Linked DNA regions of Homo sapiens. The protein of the gene in region 1 interacts with the protein of each later gene in a pairwise test. Each region holds a gene or a part of one and is shown on either strand. Other genes may lie near its edges.

Region 1 (3,560 bases):
CAAGTATTCTCAAAGGTACTTCAACCGTAGAATGCTACTCATGGGGACCGATAGTGTTGTTCAGGCAGGACGGAGCAAGGACACCCTGGCCCATTCCTGGGAACGTGGAGCCCTTGAGCCTCCCCAGCTATGGTGAATGGGGGCCAGGGCAGGGGGAACATGTGGAAGGTGCAGGGGTCATGGGAAAAAATTGTATGATGCTTCCAGCTGGAGAAACTCACAGCTGCTCTGTAGCTTACCAGAGCCAGAACCTGAGCCCAAGCCCTATTCCTGCTTGGAATCTAGACCCAGTCCCAGCCCCCACCCCAAACCAGAAGGTAAACAAAAGCTCAGCCTTCACCCTGAATTCTGCCCCAAACACTGAAGCCTTGGCTCTCTCTGAGAGGAAACAATAGGATGGCGCAGAAAGAAGGAGCTGGCAACACCCCATGTCTCTTCCCTTTCTTTTCAAAAAATAAAAGTGATGAAGGTGGTGGTGTAGTGATAGCAGCGACAACAGCTTGGTAGCCTGAGAGGGCCTCTCCATTCTTTATTCAGTCCCAATAAGTTAAAGGGCAAGGGTAGGGGGCAGGGCCTCTTAGGTGAGGACGCTGCTAACTGAAGGCAGCAGTTCAGCCAGTTGCTCCAAGATGCCCACCGCTTGGCACAGCGGGTTACCCTGCAGGTTGAGGAGGACCAGCCTGGGGCAGGAGGCAAGAGGCTGGAGCACTGCAGGCTGCTGGAGGCCTTGTTCAGGAGAGTCAAGGAAAGCTTGGCAGGTTCCTCCCAATTTATTTGCTCCTGTGTACCCTCAAGAGCTGGGGACTGCTGCCTGGAAGTCTGTTTGATGGGCATCTCATATGCTCCCTGGAGGGAGTCAGGCTCTAGGCAGGGACTGCAAATGCCTACCCACAGGGTCAGCCAGGAAAGAATGAGCCGCAACACCCCACGCAAGCTGGTGTAGTATCAGGGGAGTGGTGCAGGGTATGATAAGGTGGAAATCTAGCCTGGTCCAAAGAGACATTTACTATTCAGCAATGACCAAGGGCTGCTGAGTGAAAATACCAGTGTAAGGTTGCTCTAACTTCCAATTTTTAAGAGAGGAATTAGAACTCTAGATGTTTTTTAAAGTATGAAAGTTCCTGATTTTCAAAAAACTACATAGACCTGAAGAACAGCTGCGGGCTGCCCATTTGTGAACTCTGACTTGAGGAAGTCCACTCCGCACAACTCCACCAGTGCAGGTCAGTGATAGCCCGACAGCCCCAGGCTCTCCCCCTTCAACTCACACTACAGAGCCCCCTCTCTCCTGCCCTGCAAGAGGGTGGCACATACCCTGCCTGCTGTCTGTCCCTTCCCAGGGTGGCACCTCACTTTACCCACTGTCTGAAAGGCACCCAGAAGGAAGGATACGGTTGTTGCACAGTAGCAGCTCCTGCAGCCGGGGTAGGTTGGTGACGCCGTCCAGGGACTCTATGGCATTATCACTGGCCTGCAGCACCTGGGGGCAGGGAGGGCAGGGAGGCAGGACAGGCGCTGTCAGCCAGGGATGGTTCAGCAACTGAGGAGCTCAGGGTGACGGGTCCACAGAGCACAGAGGGGCTCACAGGGTCAGGCTGCGTGATGGAGGTGGAAGGCACGCAGTTACCTGTTCGGGGTGGAGGGTCCTGCACATCTCCTTGTAGGATGGGCAGACTTCTGAGGGAGAGGAAGAGGAAAAGAACCACCCGTGACAGGGACGGAGACATGGGTACTTTACCTCAAGGCAGCGCAGGGCAGCCAGTGCAGGTGGCAGGGTTCGGAGGCGATTGTGTGACAAGTCAAGATGGGTGACCAAGAGCAGCTGTTCCAGATGGCAGAGCACTGTCAGATCCTGGGGGGTGAAGGGAGGAAGGAGGTGATGGGCTTCCCAGGAGACCTGGGAGAGGGTCCTCGGCCAGCATTTATTAGGCACATGCCCTCTGTGCCCCACAGGCCCTTGGGGACCCCAGCCAAGAAGAGGATGGGAGCATGTGGGAAGCTGACCTTACAGCCCACAGCAGTACATGACGTGGGACAGACAGTGCTGCGAGTGGGGTAACCAGTGGGGTGGGTGAGGAGGAGGAGGCCTGGAGTTCGGAGGTACAGGGGCCAGTGGAGGGTGCTGGGTAAACAAAGACTGGTCCCCCATGGGGACTGGTCCTGATGAGGCAGAGATGAGTTTGGCAGGAATGGAGGTGGGCTGTGGTGATGTGATAAAACTAATGTGTTGGGAAGGACTAGGAAAGTGGAGCCTGGACAACTTCTCAGGAATCTCTGGAAAGTATTTGGCCTTCAGGTATTGGAGGTTGCTCCAGGGTGAGATGTGCTGGAATGTGTGGGAGGAGTGGGCTAGCGGTCACTCTGAAGGAAGATGAAGCTGTGACCAGCCTGGGGAAGAAACAGCACAAGGAGGTCCTGGTGACTCGGGATTTGAAAGTGAGTGGCAAGAAGAAGAATGGGCTGAGTGACAGAAAGGCCTGGAAGAGGAGCAAGCTGGGAGGCAGGGATGAACTCTATCTTGATTGGAAGTCCACAAAGGCACCTGAGACTGGGGGCAAAGTCAGGGACGTGGGGAGGCCAGCGGGATGAGGGCCAGGGGAAGGCATGCATGGCAGCCCATACCTTGTGAGCCAGGTGCAGCACACGCACCTCGGCATACTCCATCTTGAGCACGCTATTCTCCAGCAAGAACTTGCTGCGCAGGTCATCCAGATACGTTGCCCGCATGGGGTCCACGGCCTGGAGTGGATGAGGTGGGCAGGGTATGCATGTCAGCTGCCTGCCTCCTGCCTGCTGGGCCTCCCCCTGGTCTGTTCTGCAGACAGAACTTGCCTTGAGGGTCTGGAAGTACTGCAGGGTCTCCTTCTCATACAGCAGGGGGTCCAGTGCCCGCATCAGCAGGATGATGGTAAGCAGGCACCCTGAGGAGAGGGCAGGGAAAAGGAGGGTTTCTCTTGGAACCTCCTCTGCTCCCATCCTCCTGAGGCCTTCCTGCTGTCCTCTCAGGGCCACACTGGAAAGGGGTTTCCTCAGCGGGCTCTGGGAGCAGACTCTCACGGAATGGGGCCTCACATTTATTCTCAGGCTCCAGCTCCTGCAGCTCCTTACAGGATTCCAGCTCAGACTGCAGCACTGTGGACTTCTCCACTGACAGCTCACACCTGAGGGTGGGCAGGGTGGGGAGGAGTTGAGGCCCACAGCCCTGAAGCACTGGTCAACATTCCCAGTATCTAGACTGAAACAGCTCCTTGAGGCCCCAGCCTCCTGCCCTGGCTGCCTGATGCCCAGAGTCCAGAGCCCCTCTCCTTGTTTTGTGCTTCCCTATCACCACCTGAATAGCTGCTCGTCTGTCGTGGAGTCCCGGCACCAGCCCTCCTGGCGGCCTGGGGAAAGAGTAGGTGGTTGGAGGGTGCACCCTTGAGAGGAAAAGAGTGATGGGGGCTGCTGCAAGGGGTGGAGGCTGCAGGTTCCATCACCTTTTAAAAGCACGCATTCTTTCTGGACATCGCCTGCTGTCCAAATGACGCGAAATGTATGTTGGGGCAACTGGTCGTTGAGGG
Region 2 (3,500 bases), on another chromosome or scaffold:
GGGATTTTATGTTAAACATGAGAATGTAATGGTGGGCTGCCATATTTGAATTTAATTACTGTAGCCTGTTATCCAAAACATCATGAAAACACTGGAGAAAATGAGAAAAATGACATGAGGCATGGGAGATGAAAATGATGCTGCAGAGGAAATTATGGCAACAGATGTGGCTCTCTCTGAGGTATTGGCTCAAATTCATGATTTACAGAGAAGGGTAAGCATCTCCCAGAGAGTCTTCTCCAGAGTTAGATAACTCTTTACTTTTCTAGGTATTGGAAGCAAACAAAAACATACTTTTCCATCAATAAATGCCTGAAGAAGTGCAAAGCATTTTTCAGAACAGCAAAATCTGCAGGCTATCTTTCACTCCTATAGCATCTCTTACGCTGACAACGGAGTGTTTCATACTATACCTCAAATAAGACCGATACTAAATCTGTTCCAAAAACTATGAGGAAAACAAATGATAAATAATGCAAGCTGGTGAACAAAAGAGAAGACAACAAAGAAAGGACTTTTGAAATACCATTTCACTCCTACTCACTATGTCATTCAGCTGATCAATATACTCTATGCTTTAAATTTTTTGAACCTGCCCTCCCCAAAAACATATGTGTGTATGTGTGTTTATGTATATATATATATATGTTATATATATGGTGTGTGTGTATATATATATATATATATATATATATATATACATATATATATAAAAAACAACATTCATCCTTACTACATGCATTCTGATATATTCTACCTCATTTTTATAATGCTGGAATTCACTCCATGATCCACTAATAGGTGGCATCTTACAATTTTTAAAAATCCACTGTAGACAATAGATGTGAAGATTTTGGAAGTACACAGGGAGGACTATGGACATCCTGTGATGTGAGAACCACATTCAGGCATCCTGGGAGAAGATTAAGTTAGAAATATAGGAAATCACTTGTGTTAAGGCTGGCACAAACAGATATTTGGTAAATATCAGTTTTCACAACTCCTCCTGCAATATTACTATCCCCCAAGGCTTACAGAAGTGATGCTATTCCAACATCATCATAAGTCAATGAGCTGCCAGTCAAGGTTAACTACCTTAATGTTTAAATTCACCAACATCAAGGAATGGGACTGGAACATCCCAACATCAAGGAAAGGCTACTTAAGTGACCTTTTCTGAAAAAAGCAGCCTATCATTTTTAAGAAAATGCCTTTTCTAATCAGTCACTGTATTAGGCTGTTCCTGTGTTGCCATAAAGGAATGCCTGAAACTGGGTAATTTATAAAGAAAAGAGGTTTAATTGGCTCAGGGTTCTGCAGGCTGTACAAGCATGGTACAGGCATCTGCTCGGCTTCTAGGGAGGCCTGAGGGAGCTTTTAGTCATAGCAGAAGGCAAAGGGGAAGCAGGCATCTCCCTTGGTGAGAGGCAAGGCAAGCAAGTGTGGGGAGATGCCACACACTTTTAAACAACCAGTCGACCAGGCACAGTGGCTCCCATCTGTAATCCCAGCAATTTGGGCCACCAAGGCAGGTAGATTGCTTGAGTTCAGAAGTGCAAAACCAGCCTGGGCAACATAGGCAGACCCCATCTCTACAAAAATAAAAAAAAAAAAATTAGCCAGGCATGGTGATGCATGTCTGTAATCTCAGCTACTCAGGAGTCTGAGGTGGGAGGATTGCTTGGGCCCAGGAGGTTAAGGCTGCAGTGGGCCATGATTGTGCCACTGCACTCCAACTAGGGTGACAGAGCAAGACCCTGTCTCAAAAAAAAAATTAAAAAATAAACCACCAGATCCTGCAAGAACGAATTCACTATTACAAGAAGAGTACCAAGCCATGAGGGATCCACTCCCATGACCCAAACACATCCCATCAGGCCCCACCTCCGACAACGAGGATAACATTTCAACATGAGATTTGGGCAGGACAAATATCTAAACCCTATCAGCCATTTTTATAGGAAAATTTCTGAAGTATATGAAACACTGACTTTCCTTCTTAAAAAGACTACACAGAACAGAATTTAGCCTTTTCTCAAGGACATGGTGTCATAAATAGATATATACAATGGTAATTTTAGGGCTGGTAGATCCCTACCTTGGAGATCATCTATTGAAATTTCTCACTTTACAGATGAACTAAATGATGTCACAAGAAATTCTGTAATTTTCCCAAAATCACACAATAGGATGGTCATGTGATTATCATACACCATGCTGCCACATCTACTACTGTATGGTGCTAAACACTATCTAGCAAGATAATCAGGATTTAGGGGCAGTACTCCTTATAATTTCCATGTTTATCTTTGCTATCCCTTCTCTTTCCCCATAATCTTTAGCAATAAAACTTTTTTTTTTTTTTGAGATAGGGTCTTGCTCTGTTGCCCAGGCTGAAGTGCAGTGACACAACTATAGCTCACTGCAGCCTCAAACTCCCAGTTTCAGGCAATCCTCCCACCTCAGCCTTCCAAGTAGCTGGGACTACAGGCACGTGTCACCATACCCAATTAATTTTTGTATTTTTTTTGTAGAAATACAGTTTTGCTGTGTCACCCATTTCAGCTACTTGGGAGGCTGAGGTTTCAAACTCCTGAGCTCAAGCAATCCACCTGCCTCGGCTTCCCCAAGTGCTGGGATTACAGGCCTGAGCCACTGCACCTGGCCAATGAAACTTTTTTTTTTTTTTGAGACAGTCTCACTCTGTTTCTCTGACTAGAGTGCAGTGGTGCCATCTAAGCTCACTGCAACCTCCGCCTTCCAGGATCAAGGGATGCCTGTGCCTTAGCCTATAGAGTAATGGGGATTACAGGCCCGTGCCACCATGCTTGGCTAACAATAAAACTCTTAAATCAAAAGAATATATGTGTTTATCCTATGCAGTAGAAAAATTAAGCTAACCTACTCTGCAGCCCATCTTAGGGGAAGAACTCCAAAAGATGTGAGCAGTGTGCTTTTAAAAAGAAAAAATGCAGGCTGAATGTCTACATGGTCTTCAAAAAGAAAGAAGGATGCAATGAAAAGCCTACATTGTCTTAAGAACAGCTTTGGGGATATGACTGTTAGGAAGGCCAGAACGTTCCTGAGAATAGGCAATACAGTAAACTTCACAAGGGAAGGGACTAGGTTCTCAGTAAATGTGGGTTGAATGACCTGAAAAATGAGTATTTGTCACTACACTAAATGTTATCAGGCCTTTGTGATGTTTGATGTAAGTTTGCATTTTAGGTGTTTTTCTCTTCCCTTTCCTATACAAACTGTCATTTGTATGTCTAATAGCAACCCCACCAAACATAGTCTTTGCAGAAGTTGATAACATTCCTTGTATCTTCTAAGGGGGTGGTTCTAATATGCTGAGCTTGCTAGAATTATTTTTAAAATGAGGATGAATATGTTCTAAGTGATGATCTCAGGGATTCCCCTATGTATGAAGCATGTCAATATTATCATATAGATCTTATAACTTCCATCTTGACTGCTCTTCTGTTGAGTTCTTGGCT

The links.
Region 2: the proteins of RABGGTA (region 1) and CHM interact in binary tests that used the Homo sapiens proteins (3 or more experiments, as listed by UniProt).

The regions. Positions count from the first base shown.
Region 1 is NC_000014.9:24,265,038-24,268,597, forward strand, and holds the end of RABGGTA (geranylgeranyl transferase type-2 subunit alpha), read right to left. Parts: coding exon 3,477-3,560; intron 3,384-3,476; coding exon 3,332-3,383; intron 3,162-3,331; coding exon 3,073-3,161; intron 2,922-3,072; coding exon 2,833-2,921; intron 2,740-2,832; coding exon 2,623-2,739; intron 1,853-2,622; coding exon 1,739-1,852; intron 1,481-1,738; coding exon 1,393-1,480; intron 727-1,392; coding exon 578-726; 3' UTR 501-577; downstream 1-500. UniProt on the Homo sapiens protein: Catalyzes the transfer of a geranylgeranyl moiety from geranylgeranyl diphosphate to both cysteines of Rab proteins with the C-terminal sequence -XXCC, -XCXC and -CCXX, such as RAB1A, RAB3A, RAB5A and RAB7A.
Region 2 is NC_000023.11:86,041,059-86,044,558, forward strand, and holds part of CHM (rab proteins geranylgeranyltransferase component A 1), read right to left. Parts: intron 1-3,500. UniProt on the Homo sapiens protein: Substrate-binding subunit of the Rab geranylgeranyltransferase (GGTase) complex.